7 linked regions of the Homo sapiens genome follow. The protein of the gene in region 3 purifies or fractionates together with the protein of the main gene of each other region. This does not show direct contact. Each region holds a gene or a part of one and is shown on either strand. Other genes may lie near its edges. The genes, in order: WRNIP1, MAP2K3, FOXA3, SATB2, ARMC6, ADAR and NCAPG.

Region 1 (3,500 bases), on a different chromosome or scaffold from region 3:
GGGATTCCAAAGATCTTAAAGAGTCACCCAAAAAGGAATCAAAGGTGGTTAGGGACAGAGGAGAAAAGGTCAGGATTAGCCTAAGGTTTAGCTACTTTCCTGTTTTATTTATAATATTTTTGTTGTTGTTGTTTTTAAATGTCCTGTGGTATTTTTGATTGTTTCTGTGCTGCTCAGCATTCTTCCGAGGTCAAGTTGCTTTTGGTAAATAGTGATGCTGCGTGTGGTGGTTCCCATGGGTGCTGGTCTCTCTGTGTCTTACCAGCTTTTCAAACTCCATGTATGTCATCTTTTCTAGACCACTCTGGCTCACATCATAGCCAGCAACAGCAAGAAACATAGCATAAGGTTTGTGACATTATCTGCAACAAATGCCAAGACAAATGATGTGCGAGATGTCATAAAACAAGCTCAAAATGAAAAGAGCTTTTTCAAAAGGAAAACCATCCTTTTTATTGATGAGATTCATCGGTTCAATAAATCTCAGCAGGTATATTAACTTCCTTCTACCTTTTGGTCGTTGTGAACATCAAACAATATAAAGTGTGTGAGATCACTATACAAACGCTAGAGACTTACGAGCTTTGTTTACAAAGAAGCGTAGGCTTGTGAACCCATCTCCTTCAAGCCTATTTCTCCATACATTTCTTAGTGTTTTTTGATAACAAGAAAATGCTTTCTCTATCTGATAAATGAAATGGTTGGCATATCCCTGAGCTATACGTATCAGAAAAGCACCTTTGAATCAAATTTCCAGTTTTAGGAATTTTTAATCTAAATACTAGGAGTCATTGTGAACAGTAAAATAATGATTTTAAGGTCATTATTTTAATGGGTTTTTAAAAATTACTTTAACAGTATTTTTATTTTGAAAATTAAACAATCGGTATTTTCTGTAACTCCAGGCTCTGTCTTCAAGGTGAATGTTGGAAGAGCTAATGATTACTGTTTATTTAAATGGGTTTCTGAAATAAAAGGACACAAGCTATTTTTATAAACAAAGCCACTTAGGGATTTAAAAAAAAATAAACATTAAAATTTTATTGGGCTGAGATCTGAGAGCTATACTCTAAATAAAAAAAAATTAAATTTTTAGGCATAACTTTAAAAAATTTTTTTTTGTAACTTTTTAATCATACATAGAATATTTCACAAAACTCTACTGAGCCTTTTTTGAACCTTTTTGAATAAAAAGACCCTTTTAAAGTTCTGACGAGGCGTTAGCATTCTAGGTTTCATATTGGACCACTGACTCATCTTAGTATTTTTTCCCCATAAAACAGCATAATAGGAATAATAATAATATGATTGAGTGCTTGCTGTGGAAGAAGATTCTGGAAGTGTTAATGTTTTTGTGTGTTCTTGTCTATAAATAAATAGCTGTTACATATAAGCTATGTGCCAGTTCAGCCTTTGGTAGAAGATGGTTTTCTGAGTAAAGAAATCATTTATGTTGAAACTAAGCTAGAATTCTACTTAAAGCTATTAGTCTACCAGCAAGAGATCAGGCTTGGACGGGCATTCCAGAAGATGTGTTTCAGACTTAAAAGCAAGAGTTGTACTCCCCCAAATATTGCATCTATATTCAGTGAATATAAGGCTGCTGCTATTCCTGAACTCGAAAGATAAAAATGAGGAAAAGGAAGGAAGGGATAGCCAACTTACATAGGATTCTGCAGGTGGCTGTTGACTGGAATCACTTTTTTCTGTTTTCCTCCCATGATTAGGACACTTTCCTTCCTCACGTGGAATGTGGGACGATCACTCTGATTGGGGCAACCACTGAAAACCCTTCCTTCCAGGTCAACGCTGCTCTTCTGAGCCGCTGTCGAGTGATTGTTCTTGAGAAGCTTCCAGTAGAGGCAATGGTGACTATTTTAATGCGAGCGATCAACTCCCTGGGAATCCACGTCCTAGACTCTAGCCGTCCCACTGACCCTCTGAGCCACAGCAGCAACAGCAGCTCAGAGTAAGTTGACAGTGTGCAGCGTCCTGGGGGCACACACCTCCCAGAGAGTCTCCTGGCAGGGGGCCAGAAAGGGCCGGGCGTCAGTGAGGAGAGGGTGGGGACAGAGAAGAAATGTTGATCCGCCCGTAATGAAAATAAAAGAGGAGGGAAATGTTCGATTATACCTAACAAAGTTATCCCTGCACACTTGAAGATGCATTTTCCAGCCTCTAATATGTGTTTCTATAATTCTTCAAGCTTTAACTTTGCTTTGTTGTTTTGGTTCTTGGGTGTTTGCTTTTGTGCTTAGGCTTCTATGGGAAGCCTTATTGATGATTTGAAAGGCTTTATGTCCCTCATTGAATAGAACAAATAGATAGATAAATACTTTCTAGACTTACCATACAACTCTTTTGAGCATTGTACTCATGTTTCAATTTCTTTTTAACCTGCAGTTTAGCATTTTGTTAAAAAAAAAAAATCAAGTAAAAATTAACTTGTAACCTTAAAATTATGTAATCCTTTTTGTGTAGTTGAAACTCAGTTTCATGAAAGTAAAGGAATGTTAACTGAATATGACATTATAGGCTGTCCCTATCCTTTTAGTGACCTATTTCTGCATCATGAGTACCACATGAGCTCGTTAATGCACCAAGTGTATATCATAGATAATTTGATTTCTTGGGTCAGGGGTTTTCCTTTTTTTTAATATTAGAACATATTCTTCAGATGGTATTTGTTCATACGTTGGCTGAAATACTGCCATGGAACATAATCTGGTGTGATGAGAGGCTATTGCCCACCTCCTCCTGCTGTGGACTCTGCAGCTGCTCGTGCCTGCCCTGAGGCCAAGTTCTGGAGCCACTTTTCTGTGAGGATTAAAGTACAAGGCATAGTTTAGGCTCAGGGTTTAGGTTTCACCAGGCTCTCCCTATGTGTCTGGCCCCATTTGCTCCTGTCTGAGATGGAGGGAGAATTCTGCTGTGTCTAATGAAAGCATTGAAACATTTGGCCCGTGGACCACTGGGTAGGACAGAGTGGCCTTGTTTTGGAATACCGTTGTGATGGGGATAGCCATTACATCTGTGGCCACAAGCAGTGTGTGGAACCTGTGGTATCAGCCACATGGACTCATACTCAGAAGTGCTTTATGTGGTGGGCATTTGTCAGAGCCTAAGGGGGCTGCCAGCTCCTCATATGTAGTACAGGTTGAGTATCCCAAATCTGAAATCCAAAATGCTCCCAAATCTAAAGCTTTTTGAGCACCTTCATGATGCTGTGAAAGGAAATGCTTATTGGAGCACTTCAGATTTCTGGATTTTGGGTGCTCATCTGGTAAGTATATAATGCAAATATTCTAAAATCAAAAAAATAGGAAATTCAGACCACTTCTGGTCCCAGGCACTTCAGATGTGGGATACTCATGTGTAGGTTTCCCGTAACAGAATTCTCATTACAGACGCATAGAACCACATGGTAAAGACAAATTGAAAGAAAAGGGGGGAAATCCTAACATGTTTCATGTTTCTGTGTGTTCTTTGCTCTGTGTACT
Region 2 (3,500 bases), on a different chromosome or scaffold from region 3:
CTCATCAAATAGTTTAGGTTCTGGAAAGAAGTATTGGCTTCAAAATCTGAGAAGAAAATGTGCCATCAGAAATTACCATCTATTTAAGGGAACCTCCTAGGGTCAGGGTCACTCATCGTGAAGTCCTGGGTGCTTTGTGATATGGTGGCCACAGGGCTTTCTCTGGAGTTCTTGGTGCTTGTTGAGAAATCACAGCCAATCCCAAATTACGTAAGTTCCTGGTATGTAAATCATGCAAAAGCAAGATGGTAAAGATCTTTTCAAAAATATTTCATAGCAGAAGGTTTGTTGTCGGTGGCGTCCTGGTACATTGCGGTGGGGTGGTAGAAAGGGTGGGCGGGCTCTCAATCCTGGGCCTGTGGAAGCCAAAGGCATCCCTGGCTTGGGTAGGGTGAGGGCAGATGTGGCAGAAGTCCGAAGTCCAGGTGTAGGGATGGGCCCAGAGCAGTTGCTTCTGGAGTTGCCTGGCAGAACCCCATGCCTTCCGTGTTGGGGCTCAGGTCAAGGTGTGGGTGAGCCCGCTCTGGCTCCCCTGTGGACAGTGGATTGGAGGGATGGGAAGACCACCAGGATGTGTCCCCCAGCCAGGGCTAGGAAGCTGTGCAGGAGACGCGTGGAAGGACGATGCCATCAGCAGGTCGGGCTCAGGCTGGTGGCCTTGGCCAGTTGAGTGGCTTGGGACCAATGGAGTGTCCTGGGCGTCAGCTCCTTCCCTGCCCAGGGAAGCCTGGCCCAGGACATTCCTGCTTGTCCCTAGTCCCTTTGACTGTTTGGTGTTGGGGATGAGGCCGTCAGATAGAATCAGTAAGATGTGGTGAGAAGCGCTGGCGGGGTGTTTTCCAACACCGCAACCCATTCTCGGATTCTCCAGACACCCACCCAGTGCCCTGCAGTTCCGTTCGGTTCTGATGCTACCTGGAGTTCGCACAGACCCCACAGGTTAAGGGCTCTGTCCCACCAGACTGCCCCCAACATCACACACCAGTTGGAAGTAGCGGGTCTCCCATACTACTGGACTGACCAGCTACAAATTGGGGGTCCCCATGACCCTCTCGTAAGGTTTGATAATTTCCTAGAATGGCTCACAAAACTCAGGGAAACACTTTATTTGTGTTTACTGGTTTATCAGAAAGGATATAACTCAGGGCCAACCAGATGGAAGAGACTCACGGGGGAGGGGTGTGAGTGTGGGGTGCAGAGCTGCCGTGCCCTCTCAGGGCCTGGCACCCTCCTGGTACCTCCCTGTGCTTGCGAACCTACAGGCTTCTCAAGCTCATGGAATTTTGTTGTTTTTGACACAGAGTCTCACTTTGTCACCCAGGCTGGAATGCAGTGGCACAATCTTAGCTCACCGTAACCTCTGCCTCCTGGGTTCAAGCGATTCTTGTGCCTCAGCCTCCCGAGTAGCTGGGATTACAGGCACCACCATGCCCAGCTGATTTTTGTATTTTTAGTGGAGATGGGGTTTTGCCATGTTGGCGAGGCTGGTCTTGAACTCCTGACCTCAAGTGATCTGCCCGCCTCAGACTCGCAAAGTGCTGTGATTACAGGCATGAGCCACCACGCCCAGCCTCACATGGAGAGGTTTTTTGTGAGAGAGGGTCTCACTCTGTTGCTCAGGCTGGAGTGCAGTGGTATCATCGCAGCTCACTGCAGCCTTGAACTCCCAGGCTCAAGCCATCCCCCTACCTCAGTCTCCTGAGTAGCTGGAACTACAGGTGTGTGCCCCTATGCCCAGCTACTTTTTTAATGTTTTGTAGAAAAGGGGTCTCACTATGTTGCCCAGGCTGGTCTTGAAATCCTGGGCTCAAGCAATCTGCCTACCTCGGCCTCCCAAAGTGCTGGGATTATAGGCACAAGCTACTGCACCCACTGAAAGTTTTTATAGAGCACAGTCTCCAGGCCCCCCTCCTCTCAGCATCAGTTGGCGGGTGATGCTGAGAGTTCCCACCCTCTATAATCAGCTGGGTTTTCTGGGGAGCAGCCCCATCTGAGGCTGTCTAGGGGCCTTACCCTGAGTCACCTCATTAGCATAAACTCAGGCTCCTTGTGGATAACAAAGCCACTCCTGTCACTCAGGAAATTCCAAGGGTTTTAGGAGCTCCATGCCAGGAACAAAGACCAAATAAATTCCTTTTTATGCCACGGGGGTGGAGAAGACTGGAGCAGGTAGGGGTGGCTCTGGGGACAGGTGGAAGGCCACTGTTGCAGATGCGGAGGCCTCTGCAAGGAGGGCACCCTGCTGACCTGAGGGCAGGGTAGACCAGGGGGTGCAAGTGCAAAGGCCCTGAGGTGGGGCTGTGCCTGCTGTGTGCCTGGGTGGCTGGGTCAGAGGAGAGGGAGGGAGGGTTGGGAGCGAGCGAAGAGAAGTGTCTGGTGGGTAGAGAGTTGACGCAGGTGTTGTGGGTTTTACTGGTGTTGCTGCTACCATTGTTATCATCATCATGTGGTTATAACTTTATTTATTTTTAATTTTTATTTTTTTGAGATGGAGTCTCACTCTGTTGCCCAGGCTGGAGTGCAATGGGACGATCTCGGCTTACTGCAACCTCCGCCTCCTAGGTTCAAGTGATTCTCCTGTCTCAGCCTCCTGAGTAACTGGGATTACAGGCTCGTGCCACCATGCCCGGCTATCTTTTTTTTTTTTTTTTTTTTTTTTTTTTGAGACGGAGTTGCACTCTGTTGCCTAGCCTGGAGTGCAATGGCATGATCTCAGCTCACTGCAACCTCTGCCTCTCGCGTTCAGGCAATTCTCCTGTCTCAGCCTCCCCAGTAGCTGGGATTATAGGCGTGAGCCACCACACCTGGCAAATTTTTGTATTTTTAAAAAAGACGGGGTTTCACCATGTTGGCCAGGCTGGTCTCAAACTCCTGACCTCAGGTGATCTGCCTGCCTCTGCCTCCCAAAGTGCTAGGATTACAGGGGTGAGCCACTGTGCCTGGCCTTTTTTTTTTTTGAGGGAGTCTCACTCTGTCGACCAGGCTAGAATGCAATGGCACAATCTCAGTTCACTGCAACCTCCGCCTCCCAGGTTCAAGCAATTCTCTTGCCTCAGCCTCTCAAGTAGCTAGGATTACAGGCATTTGCCACCATGCCCGGCTAATTTTTGTATTTTTAGTAGAGACGGGGTTTTGCCATGTTGGCCAGGCTGGTCTCAAACTCCTGACCTCAGGTGATCCACCTGCCTCAGCCTCCCAAAGTGTTGGGATTACAGGCGTGAACCACCACGCCCAGCCTTGAGCCACTGCGCCTGGCCTGTGGCTGTAACTTTATAAATAGTGTATCTGTAGACAGTGACTGGGAAAGACTCAAAGTCGAAATAATTTTGTCAGAGAGGTGGGACTGGGCCATACCTTCAATTTTCTTTAATTGGTGACATGTAATTTTTCAATTAAAATTTTTTTTTTTTGAGGTGGAGAGGAATATTCAGGCTGAAGGCAGGTGCTGTATCTGCAATAACAGTTTTCCAAGTCCTAAGTTTGATGCAAAGGACAAGTTC
Region 3 (3,486 bases):
ACCCTCCTTGGCTCCCAAAGTTCTGGGATTACTTTGGGAGGCTGAGGCAGGAGGATTACTCGAGGCCAGGAGTTTGAAAACAGCCTGGGCAACATGGTGAATCCCCGTCTCTACTAAAAATACAAAAAAATTAGCTGGGTGTGCGGTGCATGCCTATAATCCCAGCTACTTGGGAGGCTGAGGCAGGAGGATCACTTGAGCCCCAGAGTTTGAGGCTACAGTGAGCTGCGATTGCACCACTGCACTTCAGCCTGAGTGACAGAGTGAGACCCTGTAGAAAAAAAAAATTATTTAGGAGTCCAAACAGTTTCTGTTGATGTGGGTTATGTCTATCTACGTTTACAGTATTTACAATTAAAACTGAGAAATATTACAAACATGTATTCATTTAAAAATAGCAATCATTTGTTAGTGTAAAAGATTTTTATTAAAAAAACCAAATTTCAAAAAATTTAGTCAAAAGAGCGACACTGTTTTTTTCCATTTTTGCAAATCAAGTCTGGCCCAGTGGAAGACAGCTGGATTCTCCTGGTTGCTTCTTCATTCTCTCTGTTGGAATATCAACACCCCCTGGAAAACTCCACTGTACACTTCATGAGAAAGAGAGTGAAAAGGGCTAATAATAACTTAGGATTGCGGGTGTGGTGGCTCATGCCTGTAATCTCAGCACTTTGGGAGGCCGAGGCGGGCAGATCACGAGGTCAGGAGTTCAAGACCAGCCCGGCCAACATGGAGAAACCCTGTCTCTACTAAAAATACAAAAAAAAAAAAAAAAAAGCTGGCGTGGTGGCACACACCTGTAATCCCAGCTGCTCTGGAGGCTGATGCAGGAGAATTGGTTGAGCCCAGGAGGCGGAGGTTGCATTGAGGTGAGATCACGCCACTGCACTCCAGCCTGGGCGACAGAGCAAGACTCTGCCTCGAAAAAAAAAATAGCATTATTTTGAAAATAGTTTTGACTTCGTGGACATCCTCAAAGGGTTTCAGAGACTGCCCTGGGAGTCCCGAACCCTGGAGAATCACTTAAAGGATGATGTTGAGTGTATGGGAGCATGGTGGGTGGGAAAGCAGGGGGCAGAAAGGGCGTGTCCAGGGAGTGAGGAGAGACCTTGAGAGACTGCTTTCTACAGATAGAGGTAATGATGGAAGGGATTTGTAGAGAAGGCAAGATGGACAGACAGACGGACACTCAGTGGGTCCTGGGATCCTTTGCTGACCAGCAGAGTGGAGCCCCACTGACCCCTCCTTTCATCTTTCCCCTAGGTCTACTCGCCGGTGACCCCAGTGCCCACCATGGCCCCCCTCAACTCCTACATGACCCTGAATCCTCTAAGCTCTCCCTATCCCCCTGGGGGGCTCCCTGCCTCCCCACTGCCCTCAGGACCCCTGGCACCCCCAGCACCTGCAGCCCCCCTGGGGCCCACTTTCCCAGGCCTGGGTGTCAGCGGTGGCAGCAGCAGCTCCGGGTACGGGGCCCCGGGTCCTGGGCTGGTGCACGGGAAGGAGATGCCGAAGGGGTATCGGCGGCCCCTGGCACACGCCAAGCCACCGTATTCCTATATCTCACTCATCACCATGGCCATCCAGCAGGCGCCGGGCAAGATGCTGACCTTGAGTGAAATCTACCAGTGGATCATGGACCTCTTCCCTTACTACCGGGAGAATCAGCAGCGCTGGCAGAACTCCATTCGCCACTCGCTGTCTTTCAACGACTGCTTCGTCAAGGTGGCGCGTTCCCCAGACAAGCCTGGCAAGGGCTCCTACTGGGCCCTACACCCCAGCTCAGGGAACATGTTTGAGAATGGCTGCTACCTGCGCCGCCAGAAACGCTTCAAGCTGGAGGAGAAGGTGAAAAAAGGGGGCAGCGGGGCTGCCACCACCACCAGGAACGGGACAGGGTCTGCTGCCTCGACCACCACCCCCGCGGCCACAGTCACCTCCCCGCCCCAGCCCCCGCCTCCAGCCCCTGAGCCTGAGGCCCAGGGCGGGGAAGATGTGGGGGCTCTGGACTGTGGCTCACCCGCTTCCTCCACACCCTATTTCACTGGCCTGGAGCTCCCAGGGGAGCTGAAGCTGGACGCGCCCTACAACTTCAACCACCCTTTCTCCATCAACAACCTAATGTCAGAACAGACACCAGCACCTCCCAAACTGGACGTGGGGTTTGGGGGCTACGGGGCTGAAGGTGGGGAGCCTGGAGTCTACTACCAGGGCCTCTATTCCCGCTCTTTGCTTAATGCATCCTAGCAGGGGTTGGGAACATGGTGGTGGGTATGGCTGGAGCTCACACCACGAAGCTCTTGGGGCCTGATCCTTCTGGTGACACTTCACTTGTCCCATTGGTTAACATCTGGGTGGGTCTATTACTTACTGTGATGACTGCTGTCTCAGTGGGCATGGTGTTGATCCACGGGGTACTGTGATAACCACCATGGATACATTTTGGTGGCCCACTGGGTACTGTGAGGACTGCTACATTGATGGATGTTATTGGCTAATCCACTGCATGGTTTGATGGCCACCATCTCGGTTGGCCCTTTGGGTGTGATGGTGATAGCATTTCAGTGACATCTTCTTTGGCCCCCCCCATTAGGTGCTGTGCCCACTTCTTTTTTGGTGTACTTGGCACAGTAGGTGCCAAGTTGGCCACCATTCTGTGTAACACCTTTTTTGGCCCATTGGGTGCTTTGATGGACATCATACTGGGTAGGTGACAACGTCAGTGGGCCACCATGTGCCATGATGGCTGCTGCAGCCCCGTGTTGGCCATGTCGTCACCATTCTCTCTGGCATGGGTTGGGTAGGGGATGGAGGTGAGAATACTCCTTGGTTTTCTCTGAAGCCCACCCTTTCCCCCAACTCTGGTCCAGGAGAAACCAGAAAAGGCTGGTTAGGGTGTGGGGAATTTCTACTGAAGTCTGATTCTTTCCCGGGAAGCGGGGTACTGGCTGTGTTTAATCATTAAAGGTACCGTGTCCGCCTCTTACTGAATGTCTCTTTTCCTTGGCCAGTGGGCCCTGTGGGGCTTGAACACCTGAATTTCTGCTCCTCTGTCCCTTCTGCTTCCTGCCCCTAAGAGCTGGCTGCCTCTGGGGGAGGAGTTGGGGGAGGCATCGACCTGACCTTTGGCTCTTTGCTGTCCCTGACCCCAAGGACAGTTTGCTCACAGATAGCAGCCCCCGCAGCAGTGGGGCCAGAGCAGCAGGGGGAGGTGGCTCTGCAGTGACCAAGGCCATCTCCCCACCCCCACTTCTCAGACATACACACAGACCTCTACCTCTGAGGCTCTGCAAGCCTAATGGCCGAATAATCTTTGGCTAAGCTGGGGAGGAGGAAAAAGGACAGATGAGGTGTCAATTCAATGACTGGAGATCGTGCACATGTTGGAGTTTATCTGCGTGTGTGTGTGTGTGTGTGTGTGTGTGTGTGTGTCCTCTGTGTGTCATAGGATAGCACTATGCCTATTGGGGTCCTCATGGTCTACCG
Region 4 (3,935 bases), on a different chromosome or scaffold from region 3:
AAAAAATCATTTTCACACATTTCTCAGATACATCAATCCTTTCAGCATTCCTCCATGCACACATTATGGTACCCCAGCTCTAAATATAAAAGACTTTTATTATGTCCATTAACCATGGACATATGTGCTCCAAAAGTTTCCTGACACGCAGTCATTTGTGGTTTTTTAATTATAAACAGAAAATATTCACTAGAAAAATAAAACAGCAGCCTATAAATATATCTTTATACATTTGAGTTTTGTTTGTATATGACAAAAGATTGGATAAAGGAAGTGAGCATGCATGTGTTTATATACACACAGAGACACACATACATTCACATGTGCTATTAAATCCATGCACTGTACAGGACTCATATATCTGTAATTGCAGGTACCACTGTCTTGTTTCTAAAATAAGGGTACAAATTTTCCTAAGACTCACCAGGTCTCTCTCTGCATGAAAAATTAAGTGGGAAAGCAGATAATGCCCAGTAAAATAACTGACAAACAAAGTCATATTTATTGAATGCGTTTATTTTAACAACCAAAAAATTCTAACAGCCTAACAATGCACATAAGTTAAAAATTAATTATCACTTAGTGATAACAAAGATAGTTGATTTACATGGAAAAAAGAACATTTACAATATGTTAATCCTTATTCACATTGTTGATACCGCAATAAAACACAATTTGTTTTTTTCATTTCACAAAAAAAAAAAAAGGCGGGAAATTGTGCTTTGTCAAGAGGCACTACAAGAGAAAGTTTCTTCTTCCAAATAGATATTATATGACAGATATTGAATAAATAGACATATATGCATTGTAATTCGCAAAGATCTGGCAAGACCACAGGCTAAAATGCCCACAGATTCACTTAGAACCACTGCAAACTTGGCAGTGAAATTAAAAAATAAAAGGCAAGACTTAGCATTGAAAAATACCTAATAAATTTTTGGTTGAAGTGTAAAAGATACCAAATGCGGATGCCATCGATAGATGAACCACCTTGTAAGAGCTTGGCAAAATCAGTTTCCATTACGTGTACAGAGTGACCTTCAGCAACAGTGTAAGAAGACAATTTGGAAAGAGTAACTCGGAGATCAGGAAGCAGCAACCATGGACTTTCTGATTAAAGCTGCAGCATACTACAGAAATAGGAAGGATGGGGCCAGGGCTAACTGCAAACAACCATCCTTTTGCAAAGGTATATGACGCTTATGTCAAGATAATTTTTAAACATCATTATTTGAAAAAGTACAGGAAAATGTCCCTTTAAAAACTCCAGAGGTTACTGAGCAGCTAGAATTAGCTTGTATTGCAACATGTCTTCTCCCTGTATATTGTAAGTTCTGAGTTAATATCTACACATAGAGGTTTTTTTTTTAACTCCTACCTTTTATACCTTTCAAATATATAAATAGTATTAACAGTTATATTACAATGTTTGTGTAGTAAACAGAAAATAACTTTCAAAGTGATATTGCATGAGGTCTTTGACAAGGTTTTGTGAAAGCACAACTCAAAAAAAAAAAAAAAATCCAACCATGTGGGACTGTTTAATGGCCAGTTTAAAGCATGGATTACGTTCACTAGGCCAGTCCTGAATGTGAGGTCTCCTCTTGCAATTACTGTAAGTAGAAGTGGAAAGTAATGCTTCTGGTGTTTCTCATAGGAAGCCGAAAGAGATCTGGAGTACTATAGTAGATTGCAGCTTTAATGCTCATCCCATTAAACATCCAGTCAGCATTAGTTCTGCTTTACATAAGGTAATTGCGATGTAGGTAACTGGGATAATGTTTTCTTTTAGGATGAGTAAGTGATTCTACTGAAATCGCTTCACATACTCTATTGCCTGGAGCTGCACAACGATTCAAAAACAGTTCTTGTTAGGGCTGTCATCCCAGGAAAAGGGACAGGAGAGATCAGGGACTGAAAATGTTTGATTAGGTAGATGGAATGTGTACGAAGAAGAGGAAGCCCAAAGTGAAGCAGAAATCAGAAATGTCTTTTGGGAGAGGGAAGGATGGAGATTTATTTGAGAGGGAGCCCCTTTAACTGGGCAGCAACTTCTTTTCTAACTTAATATTACACTGAACTATTTTCTAGTAAAAAACAAAAAGACAAAAAAACAGCAACAACAAACAACTTTTAAACGAGCAGGCTTATTAATTTTCAGATTTGAAGCCACAAGCAGGTAAATAAATTTCACAACAAAATGTGGCTCATACTATGAATTCCATATGTCCAATGTCAAAATGTCATTTGATCAAGACTTGCACTAGTGGACAAAGTTTTCTCTGCACTGAATTTCAGTTTTACTTATTTGGAATTCCACAGAAATGCATCTGTTCACTACAGTAATGACAAATTGAATAACGGAACGTAGCAAGTCATTTTATTGAGTCATTTTAAGTGTGCATTGTGTCTTTAAGATTTATTTGACTTGTATCATTTTAATGTGCCCTGATTGTTTTCACTTCACTTTTTTTTTTTTCGGCAGTGTCGTTTATTTTGTTAAATACATACCTCAAAAATTACCCATTAAGCTGCCAGATAGGAAGCCATAGAATTAAAAAAAAAAAATCAGGGACAAACACAAAAAATAAATAGGAATTCAAAAATAGTCACCCCACCCTGAGAGCAGGCCGCAGTTTATCAAAAAGCCAAAGCGACTCACTGTGAAGTGGTTTTTTTAATACATAAACAAGTCTTTTCTTTAAGAACTCATTTCACAGTCTATTCTTTCGGATTGCAAAGTCTCTGTCCCATGCAATTTTAATATATATATGTAAATATAGAGATATATACATATACATATACACACACACTTGTAGCTTCCTTCATTTATTTCATAGTTCTTTTCATCCTGGTACTTGCCTGATGTAACTTCCGTTAAGTGCAAGGATAATGAAGGCAGAGTCTCCTGTGATTATAATGACTATGATCCAGTCATAGAGACGGGATAAAGTGTAACGCTTTAGTGTCTTTGCCAAGGCGATGTCTGATTCGGAAATACTGAACTTATTCAGTCTATAGGTGTATCCTGTGCAACAAAGAAATGTCCAAAAGGGTAAGAAAAACAAAACAGACATAAAAAGACAAAAATAAAGCCAAAAAAACCCAAAAACAAAAACAAAAAACAAACTAACAAAAAACTTTTAAAGAAATGAAAGCAGAAAATCCTTGGACCGATGTATTGCTTTGCCTAGTAGAAGTTCACATTATCTCTGGTCAATTTCGGCAGGTGCTGCCTTGCTTTTGTCAGCATTTTCCTCCTCAGCCTCCACTTTGTACATCTCCTCGGAGCCTTCCTCGCTGTCGTTCTCCTCTGACTCGGTCAGCAGCTCCTCGTCCTTATATTCAGCCACGTCCACCGCGGAGCCCAGGTGCTCTTTCAGCTTCCCGTGGTGCTTCACGTGGTACCGCTGGTTCTGGAAGAACTTGATGATGGTGTGTTTGGGGAGATCCAGCTGAGCCGAAAGAGTGTGGATGGCTTCCTGGTCTGGGTACAGGCCTACATCATGAATAAAGCTTTGGAGGATCCCCAGGGCTTCTAAGGAGATCTTTGTGCGAGACCGGGGCTTTTTGGCACAACTGTCTTCAGTCGGAGGAGGTGGGGGAGGCGCTTCTTCTCTGGGAGGGGAACTCTCCTTGGCTGGCTGAGACTGCTGTCTATGAAGTACCTGATAATTAAGAGAGAAAAAAATGAACACTGGACTCATGATTTTACCTTTCCAAAACCATCAGCCCTCTGAAATATGTGTTATCTATCTAGCACTGGAGGTAAGCTATAGTCATTTGTAAAGTCAGGTCTTTGGAAAGCTTAAAAGCATTTCTGGACATTTAGTATCTCACCTACAAAACAGGAGGTTCATAACAGTAGTATTTGCCATCATTTATATTCTGAGATGCAAAGTCAAGTCATTTATTGCCTAAGGTCATCTCACTTT
Region 5 (3,500 bases), about 27 Mb from region 3:
TAGCAGGAAGTGCCCTGAATGCATGATCAGATTCGGGTTTGAGATTTTGGCACGATGACTTCACAGGTGCATTTTGTTCTTGTTCAGGAGGTAGGTGTTGCTGGTTTCTCTTGATGATGTGAGATCAAGCAGTAGACTGAGTTCCTGTCTACCCCTTGTTGGGCTCCCATCAGTTTTACACCTGATGGTTTTGGATCCTGTGGGATCATTATCTGTTTCTCTCCTGTCACAGCTGATCAGCTGGAATCGGAAGCAGAACTTTTCCTCATCCTCTTTTTATAACCTGGGACTCATTTGTACAAGGGAGGCAGGTTAAGTGCTAGGTTTTTTTTAAAAAAATTGTTACTAATTATTGTAGAGACAGTGTCTCGCTACGTTGGCCAGGCTGGTCTTGAACTCCTGGATTCAAGTGATCCTCCCATCTCAGCCTCCTGAGTAGTAGCTGGGAGTACAAGAGCATGCCACCACTCCCTGCCAAGAGCTGGATTCTTGGCCAGTTTTCAGAAGCCTGAGCTGTATTTGTTTTAGTATTATGAAAGCACAGAGTTTGACTTTTTTTTTTTTTTGCAACATCGTCTGACTGTCAGCCAGGCTGGAGTGCAATGGCATGATCTCGGCTCACTGCAACCTCCGCCTCTGTGCTCAAGTGGTTCTCCTACCTCGGTCTCCCTGATTGCTGGGATTACAGACGTGAGCCACCACACCTGGCCCAGATTTTGATTTTGATATGTACTGGATTTTTTTTTAATGCTCACTTGTCTCATCTGTAGCTACCAGGCATCCCTTAGGGTTTGGAAGCTTCCTTGCTTCCTGGTCTCACAAGACCCCAGCGTTACCTGCCCCATGACCTGCTGGGACTTGGAATCAGCCATTCCTCCAGAAGCCCTGGCTCCTTGTTTTTAAAGATTTTATGTAGAGACAGGGCCTCCCCATGTTGTCCAGGCTAGTGTTGAACTCCTGGCCTCAAGCCATCTTCCTGCCTCAGCCTCCCAAAGTGCTGGGATTACAGGAGTGAGCCACCTAGCCCTGGCCCCAGCTCCTTTTCGTGGGAAATGGTAGAAACCATACATGGTGTTAGAGGTATTCAGTGCTCCTGTGCTGTCATTTCTCCTAGGCATTTTTAGTTGCTATGACTAGAAAATTAGATCTTTGTTTACCTAAGAGAAAACACATGATGGGTTTATATGGATATTCCCATTTCATATATAGGAGTTCTGAGATTTTTTTTCTCAACTTTATCGAGGTATAGGATGTACTTTTTTTTGAGACGGAATCTTGCTCTGTTGCCCAGGCTGGTGTGCAGTGGTGCAATCTCGGCTCACTGCAACCTCTGCCTCCTGGGTTCAAATGATTCTCCTGCCTCAGCCTCCCGAGTGGCTGGGATCACAGGTGCCCGCCACCATGCCCGGTTAATTTTTGTATTTTTAGCAGAGATGGGATTTCACCATGCTGGCCAGGCTGGTCTTAAACTCCTGACCTCAGGTCATCCACCTGCCTCGGCCTCCCAAAGTGTTGGGATTACAGGCATGCGCCACTGCACCCAGCGAATTGTATTTAATATAGTGTATATCTTATACTATATATGGTACATAAATGATACAAATATATTGCATATGTTTACATTATACAACTTGACGATTTTATATGCATGCAGATTGTGAAATACTCACCTCAATCAACAGTTACCTTTTTCTTTTTTGTGGTGAGAACACTTAGAATCTACCCTCTTAGCAAATTTCAAGTATACCATACAATATTGTTAATTATAGGGAGTTCCGAGTTTTTAGTTGATAGTACGATGTTAGAATCTTTTTTTTTTCTTTTTGAGTCAGGGGCTTGCTCTGTTGCCCAGGTTGGAGTGCAGTGGCGCAATCTTGGCCTCCCAGGCTCAAGCGATCCTGCTACCTCAGCCTCCTGAGTAGTTGGGACTACAGGCATGTGCCACCACACTCAGCTAATTTTTATTTTTATTTTGGTAGAGACAGACTTTTGCCATGTTGTCCAGGCTGGTCTTGAACTCCTGGGCTCAAGCAATCCTCCTGCCTCAGCTTCCCAAAGTGTTGGGATTATAGGCATTGACCCACTGCGCCCAGCCAGAATCTTTTTTCTTTTATTCTGATTCCTAATAAGATAATCATTATTATTTGCTACATCCGTAATAGTTTCAGAATAACATTACTAGTATCATTATATTAAAGAACCACCTTTCTTAGATAAAATGTAGTAAACTCTGTGTTCTCTCCTACACTTTGTTTTTTTTTCCCAAGACAGGGTCTCACTCTGTGGCCCAGGCTGGAGTGTAGTAGTGTGATCATGGCTCACTGCAGCCTTGACCTCCCAGGCTCAAGTGATCCTCCCACCTCGGCCTCTCAGAGTGCCGGGATTACAGGCTAAGCCATCACACCCGGCCTCTTCTGTATTTGCAGAAGTTCTAGGGAAGTAGGGATATCACCCTTTCCTGTGATAACAGGTGGGAAGAATTTCTCCAGGGTGGTTGTAGGGCTCTGGTCGCTGGTAGATGCTTCCTAAGTGGCGTTTTCAAGGTGGCCAGGCCCTGCCATTGCCTGCTCACCCTTGAGGTAGCTCTCTCTTTGCCCTAACCTCTCAGCTCAGGAGCATCTATCGGCTGCACGCCAACATCAACACAGGCGAAGATGGTCTCCAAGCGCATTGCCCAGGAGACCTTTGATGCAGCTGTGCGCGAGAACATCGAGGAGTTTGCGATGGGGCCAGAGGAGGCAGTGAAAGAGGCCGTGGAGCAGTTTGAATCGCAAGGTAGGGTGGTGTGACTGTCACCTACCATCCTTGGCTCTTAGATGCAAGAGCAGTGGGAGAGCCCTGCTGCCCCGCCCCACTGGGGGTGCCACATGCCTGGCATAGAAACCAGGTGCCATTGGGCCCTGTCCCCTCCAGCTTCTGCCCGAGGCAGGCTGGTTATCCTGCTCCCACCTCTCACCTGCTTCCACCTCGCCCAGATATTTGTGGGCTGGATCCTTCTCATGAGTCTCATTTGATCACTTCCTTGAAGAGACTTTCCCTGACCCTGGCCTGGGAAACAGGGCCCCTGCCTCCCTGCCCTACTCTACCCTACCTCGAGCTTACAGAGGCAGAAGCAGCCTGTGGAAACAGGTGGCATGTTCAGACCAGGTGCAGATGAGTGTGGTTATGAGGGGCTGTTTGCAATGGTGTGGGTGGGGTTAGGAGACCACCCCTAGCACAACTAGCTCCGGCAGAGACCCTGACTGCAGGGAGCAGGAGTCCTGGGCAGGGGCCACATGATGGGTGCTGGGCCCTGGGGCAGAGGCAGGGGGCTGGGAATGAACACCCCACACTCCCCTCCTCCTGCCCCCATCTCAAGTTCACTTCCCCATTGAACAAACCCAGGGTACAGCCTGAGAGGTCAGAGGTCAGCCTCCTAGGCACAGAGTGGGGTATAGAACACTAGACAGGGGCCAGTGGGACAAGCAAAAGCGTCCAGCACTGTAGGGGCTCCCTGTGGG
Region 6 (2,630 bases), on a different chromosome or scaffold from region 3:
CAGCCATCCTCCCATCCTGCACTTTAGCCAGCTGCAGGGCGGGCAAGGCAAGGAAAGCTGCTTCCCTGGAAGTGTATCACTTTCTCCGGCAGCTGGGAAGTCTAGAACCAGCCAGACTGGGTTAAGGGAGCTGCTCAAGCAATAGCAGAGGTTTCACCCGGCAGGATGACACAGACCACTTCCCAGGGAGCACGGGCATGCCTTGGAATATTGCCAAGCTTCCAGCTGCCTCTTCTCCTAAAGCATTCCTAGGAATATTTTCCCCGCCAATGCTGGGCGTACACCCTAGCCAACGGGACAAATCCTAGAGGGTATAAAATCATCTCTGCTCAGATAATCATGACTTAGCAAGAATAAGGGCAAAAAATCCTGTTGGCTTAACGTCACTGTTCCACCCGGTGTAATATCTCTCATGACAGTGACACCAAGGGAAGTTGACTAAGTCACATGTAAATTAGGAGTGTTTTAAAGAATGCCATAGATGTTGATTCTTAACTGCTACAGATAACCTGTAATTGAGCAGATTTAAAATTCAGGCATACTTTTCCATTTATCCAAGTGCTTTCATTTTTCCAGATGGCTTCAGAAGTAGGCTCGTGGGCAGGGCGCAGACCTGATCTTTATAGGGTTGACATAGAAAGCAGTAGTTGTGGGTGAAAGGGCAGGTTGTCTTCAAACTCTGTGAGGTAGAATCCTTTGTCTATACCTCCATGAACATTGACTCGTGTGTTCAGAGCCTTTGGCCTCTCTGTGGAGTCTGGCTCTCTGGCTCCTGTGCATTCTTTGAATAGTCACTCGTAAAAACTGTCAGTGCTTGAAACTGTTTCCTTTACTCATGTTGAAGGGACTTTGTTGGCTTTTAGAGTGTTGGTCATGACTCCAAGAGCAGAGCAGGGAAGAGCCCAAGCATAGACTTGGTGCCGTGGTGATGGCTGCAGTCCAGTTTTGTGATGCTGCTTTTACGTGTCCCTCGATAACAGTCAGCTAGACACACTCAGGAGGACTACTGAGGCTCTGCGACCTTCAGGAGCTGAGCCTGCCTCTCTCCTTTAGATGACAGACCTTCATCTGGGAACGTGCTGAGCCAGCACCCTCAGATGATTTCCCTCCAAACTGCTGACTAGGTCATCCTCTGTCTGGTAGAGACATTCACATCTTTGCTTTTATTCTATGCTCTCTGTACTTTTGACCAAAAATTGACCAAAGTAAGAAAATGCAAGTTCTAAAAATAGACTAAGGATGCCTTTGCAGAACACCAAAGCATCCCAAGGAACTGGTAGGGAAGTGGCGCCTGTCTCCTGGAGTGGAAGAGGCCTGCTCCCTGGCTCTGGGTCTGCTGGGGGCACAGTAAATCAGTCTTGGCACCCACATCCAGGGCAGAGAGGTCTGTGGTTCTCAGCATCAGAAGGCAGCGCAGCCCCTCTCCTCTTCAGGCTACAGGGTTGTCACCTGCTGAGTCCTCAGGTTGTTTGGCCTCTCTGGTCCATCTTGGGCATTAGGTTCTCCAGCAGAGCTCTGGCCAGCTGCCTCTTCTTTAACTGGGAACACAGGCTCTCACAAGATCAGAACCCCCACTCACCCCCAAGATCTTATCTAGCAAGCCTGTAGTATTCAGTTTCTGTTGTAGGAAGAGAGCGAGGCATCCCTGAATTCCACGCATCTGCTGGAAACGAGCCGTGTCAGATCGCACATCCCTGCGCCCCCATGCCCCTCTGAGTCACACAGGACAGAGGAGGCAGAGCTTCTGCCCACTGTTATCTTCACTTTCTTTGTCCAGTCTTTTGTTTTTAATAAGCAGTGACCCTCCCTACTCTTCTTTTTAATGATTTTTGTAGTTGATTTGTCTGAACTGTGGCTACTGTGCATTCCTTGAATAATCACTTGTAAAAATTGTCAGTGCTTGAAGCTGTTTCCTTTACTCACATTGAAGGGACTTCGTTGGTTTTTTGGAGTCTTGGTTGTGACTCCAAGAGCAGAGTGAGGAAGACCCCCAAGCATAGACTCGGGTACTGTGATGATGGCTGCAGTCCAGTTTTATGATTCTGCTTTTATGTGTCCCTTGATAACAGTGACTTAACAATATACATTCCTCATAAATAAAAAAAAAACAAGAATCTGAATTCTTAGAAAGTTTTAAGTCCTGGTTTCTTGGGGGAGGTGAAAATGGGAACAAAGGGACCTGTGGCCCTGGGGTTTCTGATAACAGCACCAGTGGCATCTGACATGAACCTGTGGGGGACAGGGCTGTCCCTCAGCCTTTGGAAAGGAGCCATTTCAAAGAACCTCCCTTTGTGGGTAAATTTGCGTCTGGGTGGGGTGGGGTTCATCAGGCACCTTTTGATTACGTACCCAGCAGGGCCCTTCCCCAGCAGAGCCCACGATTGATTGATTGATTGATTGATTGATTGATTGATTTAGAGATGGAGTATCACTCTGTCTCTCAAGCTGGAGTGCAGTGGCGCGATCTCGGCTCACTGCAAGCTCCGCCTCCCGGGTTCACGCCATTCTCCTGCCTCAGCCTCCCGAGTAGCTGGGACTACAGGCGCCTGTCACCACGCCTGGCTAATTTTTTTGTATTTTTAGTAGAGATGGGGTTTCACCGTGTTAGCCAGGATGGTCTCAATCTCCTG
Region 7 (3,500 bases), on a different chromosome or scaffold from region 3:
GCTATAGCACAAAGTCTGTGGAGACTCATGAAAATTAAGGGTTAGAAAGGTAGGTTAGGTGCATAAACAGGTGCTAAAGAAACAACTTTTTTTTTTCTTGGAAGGTGATAAAACATAGTAAGGTAATAATGGCTTCTTGTAAAATAACATACATGACCAATTCAAATGTGTTCTAAAATATATTTCAATGTAAAAACTAGAACCTTTATATACTGGGGATTATAAGATTCTACTTACTAGAAATTTACAAGGTTAAGGAGTAAGACAAAGTTTGGCTTGTGATGTTTCTCATTTATAAGGAATAAAACAATATGAATATATGAAGTTTGGTCTATTAAAAAGGATGGTGTTCTCATGGTGTGATATACCACAAAAAAAATCTGATCAAAACCAAACTGTTCAATGTGACAGTCTGAAAATTATATACTCTACTTCATTCATGTTACACTTTTTTCTACTCCTTACCTGCTTTTACTAATGCATTTATCCCCAAGAAAACATCCAACAATATGGGACTAATTTGGAACAATATCCAGCAATTGGTATTTAAATAATTTACTGGTTACAAAACAATATTATGACCAGACTCCATTTTAGAAAAAATTAAATCTGCATCGAAAAGGGCCTTAAAAAATAGATTTCTAAAATCAAAATCATGGTTGGCTCATGGGTGGGATTATTAGTGTTCCTTATAGTAGTTTGTCTGGATGTACTTTCTGATTCTTCTGTAATAAGCATGCATTGCTTTTGTAATGAGGAAATAATAAAACAATAAAAAGATCTTGAATTTCAGATTTTTTTCCAAGTGACCCCCTAATAGTCAGCATTTACTTTGCCAACAGATCCCCTATTGTTGGATAGCCCTTGGGAAATAAGTTGGGAAAATATGAAATAAGATGGGAATAGAAGGAAAACAAAGCCCAGAAAAATACTACAGGGATTTTTTAAAAATGCTTAGTTACAGGAAGGATAGAACACAAATAACTAATATAAAACCATCATTTAACCAAATCTTAATTTAACCCAAATTGTCTTTTGTAATATCTTTTGCATCATACTTCTTTCAATCTAAAGCACCAAGAGCAACACTGATTTTATAATCTTTAGACACAAGGCAAAAACTGACATCCACAGAAAGAATTAAAAAGAAAGGATACCAAAGACATTTTAAAAAAAATCTTTATCCCTAAGGAAACAAAGATAAGAAAACTTGCAAAACAAGTATTTTTCATTGGAAGATAAAATTTAAAACTTTTATCATAAAGATGGTCAATCCACACACTACCTCTGTTAGTCTTTAGCTGAGTAGACTTTGATGCTTGGGTTGCTTTTACACCCCTGAGTGGAGTCATATATACTTCTTTATTCTTTTCTATTAAAGGGAATAATACAACAATATAAATAAGATAACCTCATGAAATATTTTAAATTGTCTTTTTAAGACCAGTTTTTATAAAACTGAAATGACAAAGTCCTTCTAGCAGCTAGTGAAAAGTTATAAATCACCCTTTCGAAAATTTGAATATTGGAAAAAGAAGCAAAACTCTTAAAAAGATGGTCATATGTTGAGAAATGCATGCCAAAAAACACTTGAAAAGCAGAATAAACATTTATCAGTAATGCTCTTTCCCAAGAGGATTAATTAGAAAAAAAATTTCATTCATTTCTGATGTCCAACCAAACATGTTAGAGTAGAAAAAAATATGTCTCAGTAAAGATGGAAAAAAAAAAACAGAACCTTATAAATATTCTGTTCAGTATGTGATTACCATCTTCATTTTGGAAAGTAGTTGTAGTCAAGGTGGCATCCTGTGCTGCTTCAGCTTGGTCACCAAATTCTTTATTTCCTTTTTCTAACTGAATCTTGATTTTCTCCAAAGCTCTCAGACATGTCCTATCTTTTACTTGCTATAAAAGAAAACATTATTAACATTTTGTAAACACCGCATTCCCTAATCTTTGAAAATAGTACCAATACATATCAAGTTGTTTAAAAACACTAAATTATATGAAATTTATGAAGAAAATACTTCAAATAAGTCACAATATGCTAACATATGTATAATCTAATACAACCATGTAAATTCTACATGTATAAATATAAACACAAACTAATTTAGAGTAATGAGAAACTACTTTACCTCCAGAATCTCATTCAATAGAACCAGAAGATCTTTTGCAAGATGGCTACTGAGTTCTAAAGAACTCAAGGCTTTTGTATAGACTCGAATTTCTGGCGAGCACGGACTTGTTAAGATCTCATTGCAAATTTTCATAGCCAAATTGTCATGTACTGTTAAGGCCTAAAAAATTAAGAGAAAATTCTCTGTAAATTGAAGATGATTATGATTATTATATAGTCTTACACATCTAACAAATATTTCCAACTAATTTTCTTGCCATAATCCCAAATATAAAATGTCTAAAACCAAATTTAACATCCTCCCTACCCCCAAAATAAGCTCCCCTTCTTGACTTCTTGTTGTGGATGTTGTGATATAGGGCCCAGTTCCACTCCCTTTAGGAAAGATGCACTCATCCCCCAGTTGCTGCATGTTTTGGAGGGTAAAAGTTCCCAGCTGCAGTACTGATCCAGGCTGACAATGGTGGACTTTGGTGGACCTTGTCCAAGATCATACCTCTTCTCCCAAAGATTTGTCCAAATCCAATGACTGGCCCGTGCACAAGTACAGTGTTTCAGCTTGTCTCCATTCTGGACAACTCAAAGGAACATCCCAGTTCCGGAACTCCCTATGGGATTGGCTGGGGCCTTTGTTTGCATAGCAGTAGTTGAACTTAGGGCTATGCCCCAATCTACTTTTCCCTTACTCTTCCAAGACACTGATCATGAGAGTACTCCCCAATTAAACTATGTCAACAGCTCCTTTGAAGTCTGCTGTTACACATACTTAGAGTTTTCCTGGACTCCTCCATCTCCCTTGCCTCTCAAGCTCTTTCTTTTAGATTCTTGTACCCATAATTCTTTATTAGGTCAATTTCTATTCTTTCTACTATTACTTTCTAGTACTTTTTCTACAAGCGAATTATACAGATTTTCAGCTGCTTTCTTTATTAATATTCTTTTCTTTCTGCTCACCAATTCATCTCATATAACCACCACTGACCACCAAATTAATCTTTCCAATAAGTGGTTTTCATGACATTAACCCTTTCATCATAAGCCCTGCATAATTATCCATTGCACATAAGGCCAACTCCAAATTCCCTACATTGGCCTTTAAAGCAATCTATAATCTACCCCCAGTGTTGTGCCCTAACAGTCCTATTCAGGATCCTTAGCCAAAGTCATCTTTCTACAGTTCCCCAATATTTGCATAACCATCTACATATATCACCTTTACTAAAACATCCTTCCTCTACCCAAACCACTCCCCAAATACCAACAAGGCCTAACTGAATTTTGGTCAATGAGTTTTAAAACTAATGCTGTACTCATCATTCCTACCACATGACTCTTGCCCTTGTCTCAAGTCATGAAG

What was found.
Region 1: the proteins of FOXA3 (region 3) and WRNIP1 purify together in Homo sapiens (affinity purification with mass spectrometry; one large-scale study listed by BioGRID and IntAct). This does not show direct contact.
Region 2: the proteins of FOXA3 (region 3) and MAP2K3 purify together in Homo sapiens (affinity purification with mass spectrometry; one large-scale study listed by BioGRID and IntAct). This does not show direct contact.
Region 4: the proteins of FOXA3 (region 3) and SATB2 purify together in Homo sapiens (affinity purification with mass spectrometry; one large-scale study listed by BioGRID and IntAct). This does not show direct contact.
Region 5: the proteins of FOXA3 (region 3) and ARMC6 purify together in Homo sapiens (affinity purification with mass spectrometry; one large-scale study listed by BioGRID and IntAct). This does not show direct contact.
Region 6: the proteins of FOXA3 (region 3) and ADAR purify together in Homo sapiens (affinity purification with mass spectrometry; one large-scale study listed by BioGRID and IntAct). This does not show direct contact.
Region 7: the proteins of FOXA3 (region 3) and NCAPG purify together in Homo sapiens (affinity purification with mass spectrometry; one large-scale study listed by BioGRID and IntAct). This does not show direct contact.

The regions. Positions count from the first base shown.
Region 1 is NC_000006.12:2,768,393-2,771,892, forward strand, and holds part of WRNIP1 (ATPase WRNIP1), read left to right. Parts: intron 1-298; coding exon 299-490; intron 491-1,665; coding exon of another isoform or gene 1,666-1,721; exon of another isoform or gene 1,722-1,727; coding exon 1,728-1,969; exon of another isoform or gene 1,970-1,984; intron 1,985-3,500. UniProt on the Homo sapiens protein: Functions as a modulator of initiation or reinitiation events during DNA polymerase delta-mediated DNA synthesis. In the presence of ATP, stimulation of DNA polymerase delta-mediated DNA synthesis is decreased.
Region 2 is NC_000017.11:21,305,211-21,308,710, forward strand, and holds part of MAP2K3 (dual specificity mitogen-activated protein kinase kinase 3), read left to right. Parts: intron 1-3,500. UniProt on the Homo sapiens protein: Dual specificity kinase. Is activated by cytokines and environmental stress in vivo. Catalyzes the concomitant phosphorylation of a threonine and a tyrosine residue in the MAP kinase p38.
Region 3 is NC_000019.10:45,870,812-45,874,297, forward strand, and holds the end of FOXA3 (hepatocyte nuclear factor 3-gamma), read left to right. Parts: intron 1-1,263; coding exon 1,264-2,247; 3' UTR 2,248-2,986; downstream 2,987-3,486. UniProt on the Homo sapiens protein: Transcription factor that is thought to act as a 'pioneer' factor opening the compacted chromatin for other proteins through interactions with nucleosomal core histones and thereby replacing linker histones at target enhancer and/or promoter sites.
Region 4 is NC_000002.12:199,269,005-199,272,939, forward strand, and holds the end of SATB2 (DNA-binding protein SATB2), read right to left. Parts: intron 3,669-3,935; coding exon 3,207-3,668; 3' UTR 501-3,206; downstream 1-500. UniProt on the Homo sapiens protein: Binds to DNA, at nuclear matrix- or scaffold-associated regions. Thought to recognize the sugar-phosphate structure of double-stranded DNA.
Region 5 is NC_000019.10:19,040,103-19,043,602, forward strand, and holds part of ARMC6 (armadillo repeat-containing protein 6), read left to right. Parts: intron 1-2,583; exon of another isoform or gene 2,584-2,608; coding exon 2,609-2,775; intron 2,776-3,500.
Region 6 is NC_000001.11:154,581,557-154,584,186, reverse strand, and holds the end of ADAR (double-stranded RNA-specific adenosine deaminase), read left to right. Parts: 3' UTR 1-2,130; downstream 2,131-2,630. UniProt on the Homo sapiens protein: Catalyzes the hydrolytic deamination of adenosine to inosine in double-stranded RNA (dsRNA) referred to as A-to-I RNA editing.
Region 7 is NC_000004.12:17,838,479-17,841,978, reverse strand, and holds part of NCAPG (condensin complex subunit 3), read right to left. Parts: intron 2,304-3,500; coding exon 2,142-2,303; intron 1,909-2,141; coding exon 1,770-1,908; intron 1,373-1,769; coding exon 1,286-1,372; intron 793-1,285; exon of another isoform or gene 1-792. UniProt on the Homo sapiens protein: Regulatory subunit of the condensin complex, a complex required for conversion of interphase chromatin into mitotic-like condense chromosomes.